7 linked regions of the Homo sapiens genome follow. The protein of the gene in region 7 purifies or fractionates together with the protein of the main gene of each other region. This does not show direct contact. Each region holds a gene or a part of one and is shown on either strand. Other genes may lie near its edges.

Region 1 (3,500 bases), on a different chromosome or scaffold from region 7:
AAGTGCTGGGATTACAGGCATGAGCTACCGCATCCAGCCTCATTTATTTTTACATTACAGAATACTAACACTTTTTTGAGTTTATGAAAATCTTAAGCTTTTTTCATGCCACAGGACTCCAAATTCCAGCAATCTTGTGGAAAAGATATGGTACCATGTCAACATTTTAATAGCCCCAATAACATTGTTTCCAAAATGTATTAATACTTTCTAGGTTTCCAGAAAAAAATAGTTTTGAGAATAAATATCCACTTAAACCATTACCGAGAATAAGAAAAAATGTCACTTTATCATTACTAGGAATTATTAACTTCCTCTATTGTTTCAATACACTGAACCAAAATCAAAGAATTTAGGCCCTAACCTAATGTTTCCAACATGCTGAAATTTATATTAACATTTTCTTTGTTACTGTTACTTTCATTATTACCTAATTATATTAACCAGTTATGTTAACTAATTAGCTTCATTATACTAGTTATGTTAACTTATACACTAGTTATGGCAACCAGAGTCTGCCCTGTGAAGTATTGTGTCCCTTTCCCAATGAGCAAAGTGGTTCTCCATGTCACTTGCCCGGTGCATCTTGCTAACAAGTGAGGCAGTTTCTTTATTCCAACAGCCTCACCTTTCAAAACTTTGGTTTCTTTATCTCTAAAACAGGCCAAAGTCTGTCCAACCCTGCCTACTTCAACAACTGATTGAGAATTAAGTAGAGGTTCAATTGCTATGAAAATTACAAAATATGATATAAATGTGTATGGCTGGTTTCTGGAAATTACCACTCTGATCTCAATCTGAAAGAAAATTAGTTCTGCTCAAACTATCGGTGGAAGTAATCTATCAAACTTGATATTCAAAATGACGCATAATCAATATGTACTTACATCAAAAAGCTGTAAGAACCATCCCATTAAAAATGAGAATTGCTGACCATTTCACTCATTCATCAAACACACAGAGCACACCTGCTACAGCCAGGGTTTGCTCCTCCACTGTCACAAAAGGACGATCTAGGGGTGCAAACCCAAGCACGACCAGGTTCCCTGCATTCAGGAAGTCCACTGACTCAGCTGCACACTTCAGCAGTCCACAAACTCAAACAAAGGATAATGACATAACAACTCATACAACCAGTAAAGTGTTAACAGTGTTGACCACATTAGCTGACAAAGTTTGGCAGCAGAAAGAAATGCACCCCACTGAGATGTTGATGATAAAGTCAAGCAAAATGTAGATTACTTTGTTTGATCTCCGTAAGCACCAATTAAGGCGTGGATAACTTCCTGATATCGCTACAGCTTCATTAGCTAAAGCTAGGAAAAAGATTTAACTGTCCCCTTGTTGCAGATGTTAACATCAAAAGAAATTACAAATAAAACCATTTTTGAGTTCTTTACCTGTTTGTTTCCTTTCATAAAGAGCATCACAGAAGCTTTATTTGTCAGCACTTTGAGCCTAAAGAGAGAAAATTGATATAAAACGGCTCAGCTCAATTATGCAACACCACTTTTCCTCCGCTTCGTGAGTAACATGCATATTTGAGGGATGGCAGGATGACAGTTCACAGCTTTGAGTGGTATTAAACAAGCAAATGCGTTGACATTTTCCTTGATTTCATTCTCTCCCTAAGCCACTGTAAAACACAATATGGCTTTTAAGGCAACGAATGTTCCTTCAAGTTGCAATTTAAGCCCATCAACTCACAGTAATAAAAAAATAATAATAATAACCAATTCAGTAAGGAATTGTTCAATAAGGGGCCTATATATTAAGCCCATCCAAAACTTCCAGAACTAGATCTTGTGTGCACCATCTTCCATCATGATGCTGCATACCACTGTACACGTGTAAAGCTCACAAGGTCGGACTGCAGGGTGACAGCGTTAAACCTCAGAACATCAACTAATGCCAGATACTAAAATCAAATTCTCTCATCTTAACATGTTTTATATTTTATATAGTCTTTCAAACATCATAATCTAACATGCTGTCAGGAATTTTAATTATCTGTATACAGCCACAAGTTTAGTCACAAATCTCAAGAAAAGTCAGTGCTGGGACAACGGGTCACTAAAGAACCTAAGCCCCATGGGGTCACGCCACCATGTTCTCCCAATTCACAGCTCAAAAATCTCCTTAGAGGTTGGGCGCGGTGGCTCACGCCTGTAATCCCAGCACTTTGGGAGGCTGAGGCAGGTGGATCACGAGGTCAGGAGATCAAGACCATCCTGGCAAAACACGGTGAAACCCCGTCTCCACTAAAAAGTACAAAAGAATTAGCCGGACGTGGTGGCGGACGCCTGTGGTCACGGCTACCCGGGAGGCTGAGGCAGGAGAATGGTGTGAACCCGGGAGGCGGAGCTTGCAGTGAGCCAAGATAGCACCACTGCACTCCAGCCTGGGCTACAGAGCCAGAGTCCGTCTCAAAAAAAAATAATAATAAATATCCTTATAAACTCATCCCAAATGAAATGCATCAATCACGCACAAAGCTGTATCACTTACATTGCCAACCGAGTGGGATTAGCTCAAGTTCAGAAAAATATGAACAGATATAGGAATACAATGCTGACCCTGACAACCCAACTAACTAACCCAGTCACCTGGATACAGGGAACCACAGCTCACAAAGTACTGCCAAAATACATGTCACAAGTCCATGAACTCCACTTCCTACACTCTGCTCACTCGGAGCCCTTTAAATTATTACTCCAAATATGCTGAATTTTCCTTCCGACATAATTCTAGCCCGTTACCCTTTGGTGTCTGCAAGCACAGATTTAGAAGCAGCACATTAGGAAACGGAGGTCTGATGGAGACAAGGCCATTAACAGCGGCAAGTGCACTCAGCAGAGAAGGAAAATCAACTGAAGAGCAAATACAAGCATATAAAAAACACAGCTGTCTTTGGAGACCACACAGCCTCCATGGGCCAAGGGCATCACCAGGCTACAGGCAAGAACCACACATGAAGACGCCCAGAGTCAAAAAAGGGATGAGGAGTATCATTTTCTCATGAAGAACACAGGAAATGGTACCAACCACAGGACAGAATGCGGCACTCAAAGATCAGCCTGACATACGTGGATTGGACGCTGTTTATAGAAATTATTAATTAACGACAGACAAATGAGGTATTTATTATTATTAAACACTTTTAGAAATTCTCAAGATGTTACATGGCAAAAAAAAATTACCAAAGGAAGGTTTATCTTACAATCTCCAGCCCCAACTATGAATGGCTGATTGCTGATATAATAAATTCCTTTTTAAAGTTCTATATTAATTTTACTGCAATAAAAATCCCATTAAGTTGCCTTACACACCAAAGTCCAACATTTCTGTAAGAGAACGTCTCTAAAAGCCAAGTGAGATCCTTGATAAAACAAATACATGTTTCACACCTCCAAAATCTGTTCATGTAAGTTCTCGTGGTCTAGAAAGGCCATGAGAAGTGCTCAAAGCTTGTTGCGAGGTGATGAGTTTTTCACACTCAC
Region 2 (3,500 bases), on a different chromosome or scaffold from region 7:
CAAATGTGATGTGGTCATTCATTCAACAAACATAAACCAAACACAGCTCCTCCCTGTCTGGTGCTGCGCTGAGTGCCGGGGACACAGGGTTTGACAAAAACACAGTCACTACCCTTGTAAGGTGAGGAAGAGGGATATCAAATGATCCCAGACATGAGAAAGGGGATTCCAAAAAGAGCTGTAGTCCTGTCCTGGGATTTGCAGGGTGTGCATCCTTAAAAAAGAAATGTTGGGGCTGAGACCCTGTCGAAGGTGTGGCTGGGAGGGACGGGATTGTTCCTGGCTGAAGGGATGACCTGGGCAAAGGCAGGGCGGGGGGACGGTCAGGCAGTAGGTTGGGAGGAAGACAGGGAGGGTGCCCTGCATGGACCAGTTCAGAGTGTTTTGTGAAAAGGGCCTGCAGCCTTTGCTCACCAGCCACTGGTGCAGTTTAACCAGAGCCTTCAGGAAGCATCCTGGGAGATGGGGGGACCTTGAGGACACTGGGCTGTCACTGCCTCCTGGCTGCAGAGGTGTGGCTGGAGCAGCCTCTGCAGGATAGGAGGGCCTCACACTCTTGTGCTTGGCCATTTGTCATATACTCTGAGTTCACAGCTTTGGGGGCAGCTGTAGTCGGGGGGCGGTTACGGCAGGCTGCTCTCCAAGACCAAGTTCCCTGGGGACAAGCTGAGCTTTCCAGGGCTGAGGCAACTGACCCCACAGTGGCCCTGGCCAGAGGTGAATGGGTGTAGCTCCACTTCCTGCACCCTGGGCTGGGGCCTGGAAGCTCACCTCCAAGAGGGGGTTGCTGGCCTGGTCCATTGGCCAAAGGGGGCTCCTGGTGGTACCCAAACTGTGAACACCCTGCCCATGAGGCAGGGCTTGGGCCTGGGTGGACTTTGCCCACATTGAGAAGTGGGGAGCGAGGTGAGGCCACATCTGCTCCCAGAGCAGCTTGGCACCAGAGGGACCTTGAGATCATGCCCTCCACAGGCCCAGCCCTAAACTATGAGGCCACCCTGTAGTTCCTCTTCTGTCCCTGGACTGATGAGCCAGTGTCACTCATCTCTAAGTTGTTCAGTATGTTTCCCTGACAAAATAAGGACATAATTCTTTACATAATACAATTCCATGATCAACTCATTTCTTAGTGTTACCTCATATCCAGGCCATTTACATTTTCCAGATCCCCCAAATGTCTTTTTTTTTTTTTTTTTGAGACGGAGTTTTGCTCCTTTTGCCCAGGCTAGAGTGCAGTGGCGCAATCTCGGCTCACCGCAACCTCCGCCTCCTGGGTTCAAGCGATTCTCCTGCCTCAGCCTCCCGAGTAGCTGGATTACAGGCATGCGCCACCACGCCTGGCTAATTTTGTATTTTTTAGTAGAGACAGGGTTTCTCCATGTTGGCCAGGCTGGTCTTGAACTCCCGACCTCAGGTGATCCGCCCGCCTCAGCCTCCCACAGTGCTGTGATTACAGGCGTGAGCCACCTCACCCGGCCTTTTTTTTTTTTTTTTTTTTGAGACAGAGTCTCGCTCTGTCACCCAGGCTGGAGTGCAGTGGCGGGATCTTGGCTCACTGCAACCTCCGCCTCCCAGGTTCAAGCGATTCTCCTGCCTCAGCCTCCTGAGTAGCTGGGATTACAGGTGCACACCACCATGCCTAGCTGATTTTTGTATTTTTAGTAGAGATGGGGTTTCGCCATGTTGGCCAGGCTGGTCCCAAACTCCTGACCTCAGGTGATCTACCCGCCTTGGCTTCCCAAAGTGCTGGGATTACAGGTGTGAGCCGCAGCGCCCGGCACCCCCCAAAATGTCTTCTTTGATAGGTAGTTCGAAACACCCTCTCCTTTATTTTTCTTCTTGCAGCTGATGTGGTGAAAAAAACAGGTCAGTTGTCCTGAAGATTATCCTTTTTTGGTCTGTTAAGTGTGTGTTGATCTAGAACAAGGGTTGGCAAACTTTTGCTCTGAAGGGCCAAATAATAAATGGTTTAGACTTTGCAGGCCATATGGTCTCTATCATAACTACTTGGAAGTAACTTTGTTTTAGTGCAAAAACAGACAACATGTAAGTGAATGAAGTGTAGTGTTCTATTAGTAAAACTTTATTTGCAAAAATTTATTTGCCAGGCCTGGCGGCTCACGTCTGTAATCCCAGCACTTTGGGAGGCTGAGGTGGGTGGATCGCTTAAGCTCCGGAGTTTGAGACCAGCCTGGGCAACTCTGTCTCTACAAAAATTAGCCGGGCATGGTGGTGCGTGGCTGTGGTCTCAGCTACTTGGCAGGCTGGGGTGGGAGGATTGCTTGAGCCTGGGAGATTACGGTGGCAGTGAGCTGGACTCCAGCCTGGGCTGGACAGAGTGAGACCCTGTCTCAAAAACAAAAACAAAAACACAACAGGCAGCAACCTTACCATCAGCTGTGTAATCAGCTGTAGTTTGCTGCTTTCCTATCTAGAATAATCTCCCTCGTTTTATTTTTCTTCTTTCTTTTTTTTTTTTCTTGAGACAGAGTCTCGCTGTGTCACCCAGGCTGAAGTGCCGTGGCGCGATCTTGGCTCACTGCAACCTCCGCCTTCCGGATTCAAGTGATTCTCCTGCCTCAACCTCCCAACTAGCTGGGACTACAGCTGCCCGCCACCACACCCGGCTAATCTTTGTACTTTTGGTAGAGACTGGGTTTCACTATGTTGGCCAGGCTGGTCTTGAACTCCTTACCTTGTGATCCGTGAAAGTGCTGGGATTACAGGCGTGAGCCACCGTTCCCAGCCTGCTTTCTTTTTCTTCTTGACATTTGAAAACAAAAACAAAAACAAAAAACAGGTCAGTCATCCTGTAGAATATCCTGCCTTCTGGGCTCGTCTCATTGCTTTCTCATGGAGTCATTAAATTTGTTCCCCTCTCCTCTGTGTTTTTAGCAAATGAGAAGTTGAAGTTAGAGGCTGGTTTAGATTCCAGGTTAAACCTTTTTGGCAGGAATCCCTTGTCAGTGATGCTGTGACTTTGGGCTGCCTTACTTCAGGAGGCATCAGTGTGACAGGCTGTCCTGCAGAGAGTAGAGAGATAGACCAGTGTGTGACTGGGAGAAGTCACATACCTCCATTGCAAACTTGTGCCATTCCTCTTAAACACCAGGTCCTCGGCCAGGCATGGTGGCTCACACCTGTAATCCCAACACTTTGGGAGGCCGAAGTGAGCGGATTGCTTGAGGTCAGGAGTTCGAGACCAGCCTGGCCAACATGGTGAAACCCTGTCTCTACTAAAAATACAAAAATTAGCTAGGCGTGGTGGCGGGCGCCTGTAGTCCCAGCTACTCGGGATGCTGAGGTGGGAGAGTCGCTCGAACCCAGGAGGCAGATGTTGCAGTTAGCCGAGATCGTGCCATTGCATCCCAGCCTGGGTGACAAGAGTGAAACTCCGTCTCAGAAAAAAAAAAAAAACAAAAACCATACCAGGTCCTCTGTCAGTGACGCTTGGGCGCCTGTGAGTATCTGCTTCCTGTCAACCTTCCCCTCTGGTTTAG
Region 3 (3,500 bases), on a different chromosome or scaffold from region 7:
CCCCCAGGCTGGAGTGCAGTGGTGTAATCTCAGCTCACTGCAACCTCGGCCTCCCAGGTTCAAGTGATTCTCCTGCCTCAGCCTCCCAAGTAGCTGGGACTGCAGGTGTGTACCACCATGCCTGGCTAATTTTTTGTATTCTTAGTAGGGGCGGGATTTCACTATGTTGGCCAGGCTGGTCTCGAACTCCTGACCTCAGATGATCTGCCTGCCTTGGCCTCCCAAGGTGCTGGGATTACAGGTGTGAGCCACCATGCCCGGCCAATTCAGGTGACTTCTGAATTCTCATTCTGATTCTGGTAAGTTACATGGGAATGCTAATCTACCTAAATTTAGCCCAAAAGAAAAGAAAATGCCCCTCCAAAAAGAGCTGCTAATAACTCTAGGAGAATGGAGTATCATAAGGGCAAGCTAATCTACCCAGCAGCCCCAGAACAAAAGCAAGGGATGTCCACCAAGCCTGGTTTACCTGCTGCGGTCATCAAAGGGCTGAACCGCAAACACGTGCCCTCAGCTTCCAGATCCATGACTGTGAGGCCGCTTGCAGGCACCAGCTGCTTCAGCTGTTCTCCCAGCTGTGAGGAGGACACAATGAACACCCTCCTGTAACAAGGGACTCAGACGTCTTCAGGACCCACCCTCATCCCCTCGGCCCCAGACCAAAGAGCCTCCTGGAGAGCTGATTCCTGCTCTTTTGACTGTCTGATTACTTAGAGCAGCTTTTTAAAAACAGTAAATTTTATGGTTTTTTCTTATTAATACAAGTTCATTGTAGAAAAATTTAGGAAATACAAGTAAACAAAAAGAAGAAAATAACAATGACCCACAATATATTACTAAGCGACACCCACTGCTGACATGTGGTCTGCCCCCAGCGTCTTTTCTCCTAGTGGCGGGCAGGGAGTTGTAGTTGTTGTCATAAAACATGCTACTTGACACTGCTTAGTAACCTGCATTGATTCATTTCGTTTATGACCAGTTCCTTTCTGCTTGAGACACTCAGCTCTGTGGTCTCTCACAGCTGTGCTGAGCCCCAGCATGGATGTACCAGGACTTATCTGCCAACCCTGCTAGGCTGGGCGTGTCCAGCATTGGCTAGAACTGCTGCTGCCGCCATCCCACACTGTTCACAAGACCCTTCAGACTCAAATCCTAGAGCTGCTATTCAGTGCCCAAAACGCTATCAAAGTGCAGGCCTGGCTCCACACTGCCAGCTGCAGATGCTCGGCAGACTCTGCCTGGGGCTCCCGGCTGTGCTGCCCAGGCTCACCAGAACCCACCGCAGCTGCCCTGCAGCCCACCTTTTGCCTGTTGTCTCACAGCCTTATACAGCAGCAAGGAAAGTGAGGGAGCAATGCCAGAAGGACTTGCCAGAGGTGACCCAGCTCGTGAGGTGGTAACGCAATGGGGAACAGAACTCCAGAGCAGGCCCAGCACTGGCAGGGCGGCTCCTCCTGTGGGCCTCAGTTCCCATACACGAGCACGCGTCACCCTCACCAGCAGGTCGGATGGTGATGGACGGGGACCTGAAAGGAAAGGGGGGTGACTGCCATTCTCACCCAGCGATTCAGCGCGTCACACGAGTGCCTCTCCCGGCCGACTCCTGAAGGTGTCATGTTGGGCACTGGGACGGCTTTAAACACCGGATCTGACACCAAAACACAGAAAGGGAGTCACTCCCAGAAACACGGCTGACCAAAAAAAACACCCTCCAAACCCCACATCATTCCCATCCCAATATTAGCCCCAGGGCACTGACTCGTATTACTGAATTCTCATGTATTATCTGACAGAAGGGCTACATTTCTTTTTCCTCGTGATCTATGTAACACTTGAATACATTCACATAAGACAGAATTATTAATTTCATTTTTGAAAAGGTTTGCTTTCAAGGGATTTCAAGGGGAAACAGCAATTGTTTTAAGTTACTAACTAGTTTACCAAGCACCGTGCGAGGTCTGTGAGTGCCACGATCATCTAACTAGGCCTCACAGTGGGTGCCAACCCGTGCCAGGCACAGAGCCCGACACTTGGGACAGAAGGCAGGTAAGGTTTCTGTCATCTTGGAGCTTACATTTTAGTTGAGGAAACAGACCATAAAGAAAGAAAATCACTCCATGTGGTTGTTAGTGTCACAAGTGAAGCTGGGGGCTCTGATAGAAAATGATGGAGTCCCCTCAGGCACGATAGGCAGGGAAGGCTGAGGATGTGGATACTTAGTGGAGACCGAAATGGTGAGGAGGAGCTGGCACCAGAAGAGAGAAATGTGTGTAAGACAGAGGGAACGCCGAGTGTTAAGCCCTTGCGGTAGGAAAGGGCAGAGTGTTCTGGAGCGCGGAGAAGACTGGTCTGACTGAGGCACAACGAACAAGAGGGAGAGTGGAAGGGGGGAAGGCAGAAGCGAATTCGGGGCAGAGTGTGCAGGCCTCATGGGGCATGGGAGAGCCTGGCCTTTGTTCGACCGAAATGGTAAGATACCCAGGGGCTCTGGGCAGGGAAGTGACACTGATACGGGAGTGCTGGGAAGGGAAGAGCGTGGTCCCTTTAAATGACACAGAAGCGGGGAAGGGAAGTGCTGGGGAGAGAAAGGCGGGTCCCTGGCTAGGACTCTACCCCCACGGACCTAGGTGAGGACAAGCACTCCTGCCTTCCCCCAAATGTTGCATTTCCCAAGACCACGCTGGCCCACCACACCACCATCCTGGGCCTATAAAAACCTGAGACCCTAGTGGGCAGACAGAAGTGGCTGGATGGCCAGAGGAACACATTGGTGGAAAAAGACACAAGCGGCTGGTCATGGAGAGCAGGCCGGCAGAAGAGCACCCCGACAGGCCCCGGCAAGCCAGCAGGCCATCAACCACGGGGACGAGGCGGAGTTTGGCCAGGGCCGCTGAGCGGCCCAACTCCAAGGGAAATCTGTCTCCCTTCTGGCTCCCCCATCAGCGGAGAGCTACTTTCATTCAATAAAACCTTGCACTCATTCTCCAAGCCCACATGTGATCCCATTCTTCCGGTACACCAAGACAAGAACCTGGGATACATTAATCCCTCTGTCCTTGTGATAAGGAAGGGGGTCTAAGTGAGCTAAAACAAGCTGCCTACAGACGGCTAAATTAAAAGAGCACACTGTAACACATGCCCGCTGGAGCCTTAGGAGCTGTAAAACATTCACCCCCAGATGCTGCCATGGGGTCGGAGCCCCACAGCCTGCCCGTCTGTATGCTCTCCTAGAGGTCTGAGCAGCAGCGGGGCACTGAAGAAGCGAGCCACACCCCCATCACATGCCCTGCGAGGGGGACAAGGGAACCTTTCCGGTTTCAACACCATGTGACTTCCACTTATAACCCTCTCTGCCAGGTGGAGAATGGTCTGGAATGGGCTGTGTAGAATGTATGAAAGTCAGAGGTCAGTTGACAGGGGACAATGGCCAACCAGGTAAAAAAAGAGTGGTGCCCTGGACTAGACTGGTGGCACTTGGGTCATTCTTTAAGATACAGATT
Region 4 (3,500 bases), on a different chromosome or scaffold from region 7:
CAACACTCTCATCTCGGCCTCTTGCGTAGCTGGGACTATAGGCGTGTACTACCAAGCCTGCCTAATTTTTTTTTTTTTTTTTTTTTTTTGTATTGACAGGGTCTCACTATGTTCACCAGGCTGTTTCCTATTTTTTAAAGTTATGAACCGCATAACAAGAGAGTATACAAAGCACATCTGCCTGAGTTAAATGATAATTAATACTTATTTATTTTTGTTGTAGAGACGGGGGTCTCACTCTGCTGCCCAGGCTGTTCTCAGACTCCTGGATTCAAGCCATCCTTCTGCCTTGGCTTTCCAAAACTTCTGGGATAGACAGGCGTCAGCCACTTGTATCTCTTTTAATTTGGAATAGCCCTTGGCAAACTGGCTTGCCACCTCTTTTTGTAAATAAAGTTTTATTGGCACACTTACTCATTTATATATTATCTGTGGCAGCTTTTGTGCCACAGCAGGGTTAAATAGTTATAACAAAGACCATATGGCCCATAAAGCTGAAAATATTTTATTATCTGGTTCTTTTGTTTGTTTGTTTGTTTTTGAGACAAAGTTTCACTTTGTCACCTAGGCTAGAGTGCAGTGGCATGATCTCGGCTCACTGCAACCTCCACCTCCCGGGTTCAAGTGAATCTCCTGCCTCAGCCTCCTGAGTAGCTGGGATTACGGGCATACGCCACCATGCCCAGCTATTTTTTTTTATTTTTTTATTTTTTTTATTTTTTTTTGAGATGGAGTCTTACTCTGTCACCCAAGCTAGAGTGCAATGGCCCGATCTTGGCTCACTGCAACCTCCGCCTCTGTGCTCTGTGGTTCAAGTGATTCTTCTGTCTCAACCTCCTGAGTAGCTGGGACTACAGGCGCGTGCCACCACGCCCGGCTAATTTTTGTATTTTTAGTAGAGATGGGGTTTCACCATATTGGCCAGACTGATCTCAAACTCCTGACCTCATGATCCACCCAGCTTGGCCTCCGAAAGTGCTGGGATTACAGGCATGAGCCACTGCACCTGGCCTGTTATCTGGTTCCTTTTTTTTTTTTTTTTTTTTTTTTTTTTTGAATCAGAGTCTTGCTGTGTCACCCAGGCTGGAGTGCAGTGGCGTGATCTCGGCTTATTGCAACCTCTGCCTCCCAGCTTTAAGTGATTCTTTTGCCTCAGCCTCTGGAGTAGCTGGGACTATAGGCACGTGCCACCACGCCCAGCTAATTTCTGTATTTTTAGTAGAGACGGGGTTTCACCATATTGGCCAGACTGAACTATTCCTCCAATACGGCCAAAATGAGATTCTACCAGCAATGGGAGGAGTTTTTTTAATTATTATTATTGGGAGTCTCTCTCTCACCCAGGCTGGAGTGCAGTGGCACCATCTCGGCTCACTGCAACCTCCACCTCCTGGGTTCATGCAATTCTTCCACCTCAGCCTCCCGAGTATCTGGCATTACAGCTGCCCGCCACCACACCCGGCTAACTTTTGTATTTTAGTAGAGACGGGGTTTCACTATGTAGGTCAAGCTGGTCTTGAACTCCTGACCTCAAATGATCCACCCGCCTTGGCCTCCCAAAGTGCTGGGATTACAGATGTGAGCCACCGCACCCAGCCCTAGTTCTCCATGTATTTTAGAGCTCTGTAGTGGACCTTGATAAGCAGGAAGATGTTACCCCTGGATGAACAAAATGGGAATGTGCTGGTCCTGGCCAGGGCGTAAGGAGCCGGAGGTGCCTTTGGACACAGCTCTTGGGATTGGAATGGATACAGCCTTTTGGGAGGGCATTTTGGCAATACATATGAAAAACTAGCATTGCTATATTTAGAAATTTGTCTTAAGGAATTATTTCGACGCCTGTGTCTTTGTCAAGATGTATGATTACAGTGTTGAACAGCTTAAATGTCCCTCAATAGGTTATAGAACAGAAGAGTAATAGTTGATAATATTTGGGTTTAAAATTATACCTATTTATTTATTTATTTATTTTTTGAGACAGTCTTGCCCTGTCACCAGGCTGGAGTGTAGTTGTGCGATCTCAGCTCACTGCAACCTATGCCTCCCAGGTTCAAGCGATTCTCCTGCCTCAACCTCCTGAGTAGCTGGGACTACAGGCTCACCCCACCACACCAAGCTAATTTTTGTATTTTTAGTAGAAACGGGGTTTCACCATGTGGGCCAGGATGATCTCGATCTCTTGACTTTGTGATCCGCCCACCTCGACCTCCCAAAGTGCTGGGATTACAGGCATCAGCCACTGAGCCCGCCCTAATTATACCCGTTTAGATTGTGCACTTTTAAAAATGTCTAGAAGGGGCTGGGCGCAGTGGCTCACACCTGTAATCCCAGCGCTTTGGGAGGCCGAGGCGGGCGGATCACGAGGTCAAGAGATTGAGACCATCCTGGCCAACATGGTGAAACCCCGTCTCTACTAAAAATTCAGAGTAGCCGGGCGTGGTGGCGGGTGCCTGTAGTCTCAGCTACTCAGGAGGCTGAGGCAGGAAAATGACATGAATCCGGGAGGCGGAGCTTGCAGTAAGCCAAGATCGCGCCACTGCACTCCAGCCTGGGTGACAGAGCGAGACTCCGTCTCAAAAAAAGTCTAGAAGGATGTGCACCACACTGGGGAGATTGGAGGTAGTTCTGTAGGGAGGCTTTCCCTTTCACTTGTCTGTGTTCCAGTTTGCTTGGTGAGCACACAGCATTGTGTTCAGGAGTAGGAGCTGGCAGAGCACACTTCCTTTGGGGAAGTGGTGGAATTAAGTGATTTGCTTACTAGGATGGGTAACTTGGAGGGGCAGGTGACTGTGTCATCTAAAATTTGTCCTCTAGATGCCCCATCCTGGCCCAGAAGGGCTGGTTTCTATGTGGGTTGTGAAGACTTTTTCTGCCCTCATACTTTAATTTCACGCCTCAAATTTCCCTTGCTTCCTACATGTTAACACAGGCCTGCTCCCTGACATTTGTCTGGGAATAGCATATAGAACCCACTGGCCATTATGGGTAAGAAGAGAATTGCGAGAATGTGACCAGGGCACTGAAACATCTGATATCTCTAGGACAGATATAGGAAGCACAGATATAGTCTTTCCTTTAACTTATAAAGGTAAAAATAAAAGTATTGTGAAAGAATTTCTGCTTGCCAAAGTTCAAAGGTCTTTTCCAACCACTTATGAATCCCTTGCTCAGATTTCATTTTCACGCCTAGATGCCAGCATTAACACTGCTATCTGAATCGGGCCCTCCTGCTAGAAGTTGTTTTTATTCAGGAGAGCCTACTACTGAATTTCTCCAGATGTCATGGTCACAGTTCTGTTCCCAGTGCTCCATTTTCCTTGTCTTCCTCTCTTTTAGGTACTGCTTCTCCGAGATGGCCCCAGTGTGTGCGGTGGTTGGAGGGATTTTGGCACAGGAAATTGTGAAGGTAAAACATCACTGTGGAGCAGAAAATTGTTAACCATGACTTTGTATATGTGCTGACAGAGAGAATGGAAACTGTCTTAGACAGCTGCCTGCTT
Region 5 (3,500 bases), on a different chromosome or scaffold from region 7:
TGGTCAAAAGATATCTATAACAGACCTAGGATCTCTATTTCAGTGCAAAGGGGAAGAGTCAGAAGGTGAATAAATACTCACAGCCGAAGCTCTTCAAAAGACTTCACCGAGTACAGAGGGGAGTTTGGATCCCGCTGCAGGACTTCCACTTGGTTTGTGTTATCAACAAGGTTGCTTCTGATCAGCTTGTTGAGTAAGGACTGGGCAGCTCTGTCCTCTGTCAGGAAAAAGAAAGCAAAGAATTTTAAAAAGTCCTTGAAACCTACCAGGCGTTTACTCTAATTCAACTGCCATTTGTATTTTAAATAATAATGTACTGAACATTCAAATTCAAGGTACGTCATAGTTTTGACTTATAAATTAAAATAGTTTTATTAAAGAAAAAAGTTATGATACATCACCCATTTAGGCCTCATATTCTTTTCCAGACTCTATTCTAACAGCCCTCTTTTCCTGCAGTTATCTATTCCTCCTATCCAGACCCACATATTTACTCCCCAATTTGTACTATATATAAACCTAAAGTAATTAATGTAGCAATCACAACAATAAAAAAAAAAACAGGAATTAACAAAGTCTGTACCTTAATATTGGACAAGTTGGTCTCGTCATCCATGTCAAATGTGTCAAAATAACATTAAGCTTAATTTTACTGGACAATAGAGATGCAACTGAAAATTTTTTATAATGCCCTATTCAACTGTTCAGTTGTTAAATGTAAAATTTCTCTAAACGTAAACCATTAGAACTCCTTCACCTACTGACTATTTATATTGAACTTTTTTTTTTTTTTTTTTTTGAGACAGAGTCTCGCTCTTTCGCCCAGGCTAGAGTGCAGTGGCTCGATCTCGGCTCATGGCAAGCTCTGCTTCCCGGGTTCATGCCATTCTTCTGCCTCAGCATCCCAAGTAGCTGGGACTACAGGCGTCTGCCACCATGCCCGGCTAATTTTTTTTTTTTTTTTTGTATTTTTAGTGGAGACGGGTTTTCACCGTGTTAGCCAGGATGGTCTCGATCTCCTGACCTCGTGATCTGCCCACCTCGGCCTCCCAAAGTGCTGGGATTACAGGTGTAAGCCACCGTGCCCGGCCCCTATATTGAACCTTTATGCTAGCACTGTATCGCCTATTAAAGTCAAGCCAAACTGGGTATAAAAATGAAGCCTCATAACAATCCACTTTCTTAGAATGTAGAAGCTTGTTATTATATAAAGCTCCACGGCTGTGTTACCTTTCTCTTCTTCATCTGTCTTCTCTGCATTGGCATTGGTCTTGACAACAGCACCTTTATAGACACAAAGTGGCCATCATTCAAAATCGCATCCCATACCCAACAGTTGAGACAATTCAAATTCTATGACACTAGAAGTTTTTGTAAAGGCCTGGGGAGCAAAAAATAAATGAGGAAACCGAGCCGCTGATAAAAACATTTTATTGTCCCTAAATAAACAAAGGTGTAAAACACTGTTGCTCACATATATATATATATAGATAGATATTTATTTTATTATTTATTTATTTTTGAGATGGAGTCTCGCTCTGTCGCCCAGGCTGGAGTGCAGTGGTGCGATCTCAACTCACTACAAGCTCTGCCTCCCAGGTTCACGCCATTCTCTTGCCTCAGCCTCCCGAGTAGCTGGGATTACAGGCACCCGCCACCACGCCCAGCTAATTTTTTTTGTATTTTTAGTAGAGACAGGGTTTCACCATGTTAGCCAGGCTGGTCTTGATCTCTTGACCTCGTGATCCGCCTGCCTTGGCCTCCCAAAGTGCTGGGATTACAGGCGTGAGCTACCGCGCCCGGCCTCTGTTGCTCATATTCTTTCCTATTCTAGGTCTCCTCTCCGTACCTCAAAACCTGTTATTTCCCTCATTGAATCAATACTTCTTAAATATTATAGAAAGATTAGAGCAATTAGTGATCAGAAACCACCTTGATGCTCAACAGAGGAATATCTATGCAAATCGTATTTTATCAATAGGTGAACACAATAATGCCATTAAAATTCATGTATATAACAAATGAGCAGTAAGACCAACAAAAAAAATTCATGCATATAAATTTTTTTTTTCTTTTTTTGAGATGCAGTCTCACTCTTACCCAGCCTGGAGTGCAGTGGTGCGATCTCAGCTCACTGCAACCTCTGCCTCCCAGGTTCAAGAGATTCCACTGTTTCAGTATCCTGAGTAGCTGGGATTACAGGGGTGCACCACCACACCTGGCAAATGTTTGTATTTTTAGTAGAGATGGGGTTTCACCATGTTAGTCAGGCTGGTTTCAAACTCCTGACCTCAGGTTATCCGCCAGCCTTGGCTTCCCAAAGTGCTGGGATTACAGGTGTGAGCCACCACACCCGGCCTATAAATTGATTAATATAAATTTATAGTCGAATGATACTGTGGTTATATAAAATCATACAAAAAAGATTTAAGTGAATTTTGAGAAAGGCAAATGTTACATTTCCTTCCTGTAATATTAAGTACATCAACAATAATTTAATGGAAATCTTAACTTTGGATAAATATGATTTCAGAATAATTAGGATAGGTAAACTGTCAGATTGCTCATACTTTGTCTATCTCATCCCAAATTGAGAACATTAAGAAAAAAATTAGTCTTTGTCAATGTAGTCCGATGGTTAGTAATTAGTCCCACTTAAGTAGCCTCATTCTTTGTTCCCCCCACACCCTTGCTATCAGTGTGCAATCCTCATTCTTGTATTAAAAACACTTTGAAACCAGGTGTAATATCTCACTCCTGTAATCCCAGCACTTTGGGAGGCTGAGGCGGGAGGACTGCTTGAGCCTAGGAGTTAGAAACCAACCTGGGCAACACAGGGAGTCCTCATCTCTATAAAAAAACAAAAATACCTGGGCACAGTGGCTCACACCTATAATCCCAGCACTTTGGGAGGCCAAGGCCGGTGGATCATGAGGTCAGGAGATTGAGACCATCCTGGCTAACACAGTGAAACCCCATCTCTACTAAAAATACAAAACATTAGCCAGGCGTGGTGGCAGGTGCCTGTAGTCCCAGCTACCCGGGAGGCTGAGGCAGGAGAATGGTGTGAAGCCGGGAGGTGGAGCTTACAGTGAGCCGAGATCGAGCCACTGCACTCCAGCCTGGGCAACAGAGCGAGACTCTGTCTCAAAAAAATAAAAAATAAAAAATAAAAATTAGTTGGGCGTAGTGGGTTGTGCCTGTAGTCCCAGCTACTCAGGAGGCTGAGGTGGAGGATCACTTGAGTCTGGGAGGTTGAGGCTCCAGTGAACCATGATTGAACCACTGCACTCCAGCCTGGGCAACAGAGCAAGACCCTGTCTCTTAAAAAGTAAACAGAAACAAAAAAATAAATAAAAACACTTTGGTCATACAATCCAGTTTGTTGATTTACAAATCAAATGGTACCAGTATCTGCCAATGCCCTGCCTGGTACAAATACAAATTTTTTTCCAGACAGTTGTTATGCCAAAACAAAAATACTGAAGGAAATCACATTT
Region 6 (3,500 bases), on a different chromosome or scaffold from region 7:
ATTGATACCAAAAGGCTGAATAAAATGAAGACTTGTAGGTAAGTATGATGTGAACATGAGTCTATTTTTTTGAAACTTCTCTAAAATAACAGTAAAAGCATAAAACAGTGTAATACCTTAAGGATGTGGGATAGAGGAGATGACAGAAGACAGATGGTTTCAATAAAGTGTTGGAAAGTGGAAAGCAGATGGGTAAAGGTGGATTTTCTCTGTTTAAGCTAGGGGGGTCTCTCCCAACATCCTGGGAAGGTCCCCAATGGTATCTTCACATGGTGATAGGTTTTTGTGAAATTTGCAAGATATTTTGATAATTTGTAGTTGTTTATTTTCTTTCAACTCTGACTTGTTTTCTGTTAGGTGGTGCTGGAATAGCTGTGGGCATTTTGAAATCAGGCTAAGACAAAGATGAGCTGGGGATGTGCTTAGTATGGGTTTAGTGGTATATATGTGATTTGCAATTATTTCTGTGTATAGTTAAGTACTTGTTAGCCATCCCAGTATAACTTAAGATTTTTAGTATCTTATTTGTTATTCTGGTTCTTGAAGGAGTCCTTCAAATTGTAAAACTTGGATCTGTCCCTGGTAACTGACATAGCAGAATGGAGGAATTCACAACCTTGGGGTGGGGTGGGAAGGAAGCCAATAAAAAGCAAGCTGATTTGTGCTGTAGACTTCTGGGGAGGCTCAGGAATTTGAAGCATTGGGTTCTTTTTGGGACATTGGTCTCTGGGTTAGCCTAAAACAGGGATTAGTTAAAAATCTGAGAAGCAGATCCTTTTCCTTAGCACAGGAGCAAACTGTGCTCTCCTTCCCCATCAGAACACTGTGGATGTATTCTCTAGAGGGGCTAAACGAGAGGTTCTGGGCTTGAGCCTACTAATACCAGGCATAGTTGAGGGTGGAGGTAAGACTCTACATTAAGAACAGGATTAAGTAAAATTCTCTATGCTGAATGGTGATTCCCTCTTCCTACCACTTCCTCTGTTTAACTGCCAGAATGCCAATAGGCAGGAGAGTAGATATGTCTTCTCTGGGTAGTTGACCAGGTACAGGAAAGACCTACAAATTCACTGGCTTTTCCACAATGAAATAGCCAGCTGCCTTGTCATCTTACGGTGAAGGCCTCCAGTAGCTAAGTTTTATTAGCAAATAGAGATCTTAGTTTTTAGTTTCTTGTCATTAAATAAAAAGCCAAGGATTGTTAAATGTATGTTCATAAATATTAGTTTTACAAGACACTAGGGTGTGATTCCAACAGCTTTGACTCCGTTTAGGAGCCGGTGCTTTTGACTTCTTTGGGGCTAAGCTTCTTGCTGTGGCTTCTGCTTGTTGCTCTGGTGAAGCACTGAAGAGAGGGAAAACAATCAGCATAAATTTTTTTTTTTTTTTTGAGACAGAGTCTTGTTCTGTTGCCCAGGGCAGAATGCAGTGGCACAACCTCGGCTCACTGCAACCTCTGCCTCCCAGGTTTAAGCAATTCTCTTGCCTCAGCCTCTGAGTAGCTGGGATTGCAGACATGTGCCACTACGCCCCACTAATTTTTGTGTTTTTAGTAGAGATGTGGTTTTGCCATTTTGGCCAGGCTGGTCTCACACTGCTGACCTCAAGTGATCCACCCAACTTGGCCTCCCAAAGTGCTGGTATTACAGGTGTGAGCCACCGTGCCGGCCCTAATCAGCATAATTTGTGATGTCATGGCCCTAGATCTAAATGCCAGGAGATTCTCACAGAAACAAAATTTAATGAGTGCCTGTATCTGAATTCTGTTACTCAGGATTTATTGATAGTTCTTTTTCTTTTCTTATTTTTTTTTTGGGGATGGAGTCTCTCTCTGTCACCCAGGCTGGAGTGCAGTGGCACAATCTCTGCTCACTGCAAGCTCCGCCTCCCGGGTTCACACCATTCTCCTGCCTCGGCTTCCCAAGTAGCTGGGACTACAGGCACCCGTCACCACACCCAGCTAATTTTTTGTATTTTTAGTAGTGATGGGATTTCACCATGTTAGCCAGGATGGTCTTGATCTCCTGACCTCGTGATCCACCTGTCTCGGCCTCCCAAAGTGCTGGGATTATAGGCATGAGCCACCGGGCCCGGCCAATAATTCTTGAATATTGATAGTTTATTGAAATTTGTAGGCAGATTTAGGGGAGATCAAAGGACTGCTCTTCAGACTGGGAAAGAAATAGCTTTTCTTTCTGTATTTTGACTTGTTATTTTTGATTAAAAAACATGTTATACCAATTTAAAACGCTTCTCCCCTTTCCTCCAGTGATAAATGCTGCTCATTCTTTCTACAATGGAACAACAACCCTACCAATATCAGATGAAGATAGAACCCCACGGAAAAGAATTAGCAAAACGTTAAATATGACCACAAGTCCTGAAGAGAAAAGAAAAATCATTGGGGATACTTTTGTTAAGGTACCTTTGTTTTTAATATCCTCAACATGTACTATTTTTGATGTGAATCTTAGTATTTGTTTTTCCTTGTCACTATATCAAATAACCAAATTAGCTAATTTTAATCCTTTTTCTTATGTGGCTGAGAGTTTTATTGTATATTGTCATTATATTGACCAGTAGAAACTGTTTTATGTTTTTTTGTTGTTGTTTGGTTTTTTTTTTGTTTTTTTGAGACAGAGTCTTGCTGTGTCACCAGGCTGGGCTGGAGTGCAGTTGCACGATCTCGGCTCGCTGCAACCTCTGCCTTCTGGGTTCAAGTGATTCTCCTGCCTCAGCCTCCTAAGTAGCTGGGACTACAGGGGTGCACCATCATGCCCAGCTAATTTTTGTACTTTTAGTAGAGACGGGGGTTTCACCATGTTGGCCAGGTTGGTCCGGATCTCCTGACCTCATGATCCGCCCGCCTCAGCCTCCCGAACTTCTGGGATTACAGGTGTGAGCCACTATGCCCAGCCAACTGTTTTATGTTTTAATAAACATGTTTGCCTACATTGCCAGGCTATTATTTTAAGAATAGATGTCTTTAAGAGTAGATGTATTCAGCTTATCATAGACTTTAATTCATTGATTATCTCAATGGCTAATTTCAAGCTCTTGAATGGAATGTTCACATACCTTTGTTTTTGTTTTTTTTTTTTTTTGGAGGCGGAGTTTTGTTCTTGTCACTCAGGCTGGAGTACAATGGAGCGATCTTGGCTCACGGCAACTTTCACCTGCTGGGTTCAAGCGATTCTCCTGCCTCAGCCTCCCGAGTAGCTGGGATTACAGGCATGCACCACCATGCCCAGCTAATTTTTTTCTTTTTTTGAGATGGAGTCTCACTCTGCCGCCCAGGCTGGAGTGTAGTGGTGCAATCTTGGCTCACTGCAAACTTTGCCTCCAGGGTTCAAGCGATTCTCCTGCCTCAACTTCCTGAGTAGCTGGGATTACAGGCGTGTGCCACCATGCCCGGCTAGTTTTTGTATTTTTAGTAGAGACGGGGTTTCACCATGTTAGTCAGGCTGGTCTCAAACTCCTGACCTTGTGATCTGCCTGCC
Region 7 (3,500 bases):
CTTAACTTTCTATTATAGTTAGCTTTCTCTTTAACTGTCTGTACTTAAGGTAGTATAAGTTGATATCAGTGTGTTTCTCATCACTTTTCACTGGGCCTAATTGTTGCTCCAACACTGAAAGGAGGCATTTATTAGTTATATTTGCTGATATAACTTTCATGTTCTCATAATAATTAACCTGCTGTCAACGTAAACCATACTTCATGGGGTAGCTCTCAGCCTGCATTGATGTGGGCTTTTTGGGTAGGGTTGCTTCATTGGTTGCAGTGGACTCATATCATAAAATTCTTACTCCTTTTTTTTTTTTTTTAAGAGATGGGGGTGTCATTCTGTTGTCCAGGGTGGAATGCAGTGGTGTGGGTAAAGCTTACTGCAGTCTCAATCTCCTGGGCTTATGCAATCCTCCCACCTCAGCCTTCACAGTAGCTAGGACTGAGGTGGGAGGGCTAGCAAGCTATGTTGCCCAGACTGGTCTCAAACGATCTTCCTGCTTCAGTTTCCCAAAGCACTGGGTGAGGTGTGAACCACCTCACCCAGCAAATTCTTACTCCTACGATCATTTATTCAGGTCATACTATGTTTGTAAGGGTAAACTGATAAAAAGGTAAATGTATTCTTCTTAGAGAAACAGCTGAAAGCCCAGATTTATTGCTTCTATTCTTCCATTTCTATGACAGGAAAACACCTCTTTGAGGTTATATTTTTCAGATCACAAGTGTGTAAAGTCTGTTTGTGTTTACAGATATTTTCTGACGAAGATTCAAACTTCAGTTATCCACTTCCAAACCCTAGTAAACCAATTTTTTCCCTTTAATGGTGAAAGTTGTCACATCTTTTATTCTCATATCTTCAAAGGTCTTAATTTCCTAATGCTTTAATGTTAAATTATGGAGAATAGTAGGACATTCTTCTTTTCTATAGTATATGCTTGCTCAAGAGAAGTTTCTAAGACTGGACACTGTGAAATGACAAAACAAGGAATTAAAAATATTTCTCTCACTTATATATTATTTCTGGCTCAATTCTCCAACTTTTGAGTCTAGAAATGAACTTGCATATCAGATATAATTTAAGAAAATATTCTCAGGAACTGCTGGGAAGATTCTAAAACTATTTTACTGTTTTTAGCTATAAGGAAGAGAATAATGTATTATTTAATGTTATTTTAAACATAGTGTTGTTTCAAATAGTAAATAACATTTCACAAGACATTTGAAAATAAGCTTTGAAGTTGACTCAAAATTCTATGCTAAACATGTGATCCATAGATACACTGATGACTGCTGGCATTTCTGTGGAAATGAAGAATTGTTTTATTTGTTTGTAATTATTTGGGTTTCAGTTGCTTTATTTTTAAGAAAAAAAAGCTGAAGTGTCTGGGAATCCTTTATGACATACAGACATTTTAATTATTTCAAACACGTTTTCCCCCTTAAGTGGGTAGCAAAAAAAATAAAGCATACTTCAGGCTCATATTTTTAACCATGCAACAAGAAAATTGTTACAATTTCTGTTCTGAGGAGTAGCCTTCATACTTAGTATTTATAAATATTGAAATGTATGTTAATTTGGGGAAAACATAACAGATATCCATGAAGGCTTGTATGTCATGGTAGGTAGTTACTATTCGATACCACAAAAATGTCTCTTGCCCTTAAAACCAGAACACGAGGCTCACCAGACAGATGACTGAATGGAGTATGGAAAATCTTTATTTCTGTTTTTCTTAGGCTATGTAGGACTTAACTTATTGTGCATTGGTAACAGATTGTAGAACATAAGCTGAAAGATAAAATTCTTGACCTTAATGTCTCATCTTAAAAAGAAGCATTGGTTGACATTCTATATCTCGTATTACTTAAAAATAATGGGGGAGCGCAGTATATATTAAACAAAGATTGGCTTTGTGGTGATCATTGTTGAAGGTGGGGTGATGGCTATGTGAAGGTTCACTATATATACTCCCTACTGTTGTATAAGTTTGAAATTGTGCATAATAGATTTATTTAAAACACAAAGCATAGAAATATCTACTATAATATTATGGTGAGAGCAAAATTTGAGGGGGATGTACACCTGCATTTTCGAAGAATATATACATTTCGGAGACCGAATTCAAAATGAAAAACCGGGCTGCTGTCCCGCACGGAGCCTCTGGGCGCCGCTGTCGGCCAGTGCAGAGCAAGCGCTGACGCCGGGGATCCGTCAGCCTCTGGCCTGGGATTCCCTGCGCAGCCAACAACAGAAAGAAGAAAACCAGCTCCCACACAGAGCCTCCCGGCTGCGCAGACCTTTCCCAGCACAGCGGATTGCCAGCTCCGAGACCCGGGACTCCTCCTGTCCTGGGCCGAATGCTCTTTTAGCGCGGTAGAGTGCACTTTCTCCAACTGGAAAAGCGGGGACCCAGCGAGAACCCGAGCGAACGATGGGAGGGAGCTGCGCGCAGAGGCGCCGGGCCGGCCCGCGGCAGGTGCTATTTCCTTTGCTGCTGCCTTTGTTCTACCCCACCCTGAGTGAGCCGATCCGCTACTCGATTCCGGAGGAGCTGGCCAAGGGCTCGGTGGTGGGGAACCTCGCTAAGGATCTAGGGCTCAGTGTCCTGGATGTGTCGGCTCGCAAGCTGCGAGTGAGCGCGGAGAAGCTGCACTTCAGCGTAGACGCGGAGAGCGGGGACTTACTTGTGAAGAACCGAATAGACCGTGAGCAAATATGCAAAGAGAGAAGAAGATGTGAGTTGCAATTGGAAGCTGTGGTGGAAAATCCTTTAAATATTTTTCATGTCATTGTGGTGATTGAGGATGTTAATGACCACGCCCCTCAATTTGATAAAAAGGAAATACATTTAGAAATTTTCGAATCTGCATCCGCTGGTACACGACTATCGCTTGACCCTGCCACGGATCCTGATATAAACATAAACTCAATTAAAGATTATAAGATAAACTCTAATCCTTATTTTTCATTAATGGTTAGAGTTAATTCCGATGGTGGCAAATACCCAGAGTTATCTCTGGAGAAACTCCTAGACCGGGAAGAACAGAGATCTCATAGCTTGATATTGACTGCCTTGGACGGAGGGGACCCACCAAGAAGTGCCACCGCTCACATAGAAATTTCTGTCAAGGATACCAATGATAACCCCCCGGTTTTCAGCAGAGACGAATATAGAATTAGTCTTAGTGAAAATCTGCCCCCTGGGTCCCCTGTGTTGCAAGTGACAGCCACTGACCAGGATGAGGGGGTCAATGCTGAGATAAACTACTACTTCCGAAGCACTGCCCAGAGCACAAAACATATGTTCTCATTGGATGAGAAAACAGGTATGATTAAGAATAACCAGTCATTTGATTTTGAAGATGTAGAAAGGTACACCATGGAAGTGGAAGCGAAGGACGGAGGTGGTCTCTCTACCCAGTGTAAAGTAATCATAGAAATCCTTGATGAAAACGACAACAGCCCAGAAATAATCATCACTTCTCTCTCTGATCAGATTTTGGAGA

What was found.
Region 1: the proteins of PCDHGA9 (region 7) and GLRX3 purify together in Homo sapiens (co-immunoprecipitation; one large-scale study listed by IntAct). This does not show direct contact.
Region 2: the proteins of PCDHGA9 (region 7) and ADISSP purify together in Homo sapiens (co-immunoprecipitation; one large-scale study listed by IntAct). This does not show direct contact.
Region 3: the proteins of PCDHGA9 (region 7) and PDXDC1 purify together in Homo sapiens (affinity purification with mass spectrometry; one large-scale study listed by BioGRID and IntAct). This does not show direct contact.
Region 4: the proteins of PCDHGA9 (region 7) and SAE1 purify together in Homo sapiens (co-immunoprecipitation; one large-scale study listed by IntAct). This does not show direct contact.
Region 5: the proteins of PCDHGA9 (region 7) and DDX19B purify together in Homo sapiens (co-immunoprecipitation; one large-scale study listed by IntAct). This does not show direct contact.
Region 6: the proteins of PCDHGA9 (region 7) and GMPS purify together in Homo sapiens (co-immunoprecipitation; one large-scale study listed by IntAct). This does not show direct contact.

What each region holds. Positions count from the first base shown.
Region 1 is NC_000010.11:130,167,391-130,170,890, reverse strand, and holds part of GLRX3 (glutaredoxin-3), read right to left. Parts: intron 1,459-3,500; coding exon 1,401-1,458; intron 1-1,400. UniProt on the Homo sapiens protein: Together with BOLA2, acts as a cytosolic iron-sulfur (Fe-S) cluster assembly factor that facilitates [2Fe-2S] cluster insertion into a subset of cytosolic proteins.
Region 2 is NC_000020.11:3,761,254-3,764,753, reverse strand, and holds part of ADISSP (adipose-secreted signaling protein), read left to right. Parts: intron 1-3,500. UniProt on the Homo sapiens protein: Adipocyte-secreted protein (adipokine) that acts as a key regulator for white adipose tissue (WAT) thermogenesis and glucose homeostasis at least in part through activation of protein kinase A (PKA).
Region 3 is NC_000016.10:15,027,026-15,030,525, reverse strand, and holds part of PDXDC1 (pyridoxal-dependent decarboxylase domain-containing protein 1), read right to left. Parts: intron 1,649-3,500; coding exon 1,560-1,648; coding exon of another isoform or gene 1,494-1,559; exon of another isoform or gene 721-1,493; intron 576-720; coding exon 470-575; intron 1-469.
Region 4 is NC_000019.10:47,200,335-47,203,834, forward strand, and holds part of SAE1 (SUMO-activating enzyme subunit 1), read left to right. Parts: intron 1-3,336; coding exon 3,337-3,406; intron 3,407-3,500. UniProt on the Homo sapiens protein: The heterodimer acts as an E1 ligase for SUMO1, SUMO2, SUMO3, and probably SUMO4. It mediates ATP-dependent activation of SUMO proteins followed by formation of a thioester bond between a SUMO protein and a conserved active site cysteine residue on UBA2/SAE2.
Region 5 is NC_000016.10:70,312,686-70,316,185, reverse strand, and holds part of DDX19B (ATP-dependent RNA helicase DDX19B), read right to left. Parts: intron 1,285-3,500; coding exon 1,231-1,284; intron 547-1,230; exon of another isoform or gene 218-546; coding exon 82-217; exon of another isoform or gene 44-81; intron 1-43. UniProt on the Homo sapiens protein: ATP-dependent RNA helicase involved in mRNA export from the nucleus.
Region 6 is NC_000003.12:155,912,150-155,915,649, forward strand, and holds part of GMPS (GMP synthase [glutamine-hydrolyzing]), read left to right. Parts: intron 1-2,269; coding exon 2,270-2,421; intron 2,422-3,500. UniProt on the Homo sapiens protein: Catalyzes the conversion of xanthine monophosphate (XMP) to GMP in the presence of glutamine and ATP through an adenyl-XMP intermediate.
Region 7 is NC_000005.10:141,405,778-141,409,277, forward strand, and holds part of PCDHGA9 (protocadherin gamma-A9 isoform 1 precursor), read left to right. Parts: intron 1-2,243; exon of another isoform or gene 2,244-2,425; coding exon of another isoform or gene 2,426-3,500. Other genes in the region: PCDHGB6 (protocadherin gamma-B6 isoform 1 precursor), read left to right, coding at 2,426-3,500. UniProt on the Homo sapiens protein: Potential calcium-dependent cell-adhesion protein. May be involved in the establishment and maintenance of specific neuronal connections in the brain.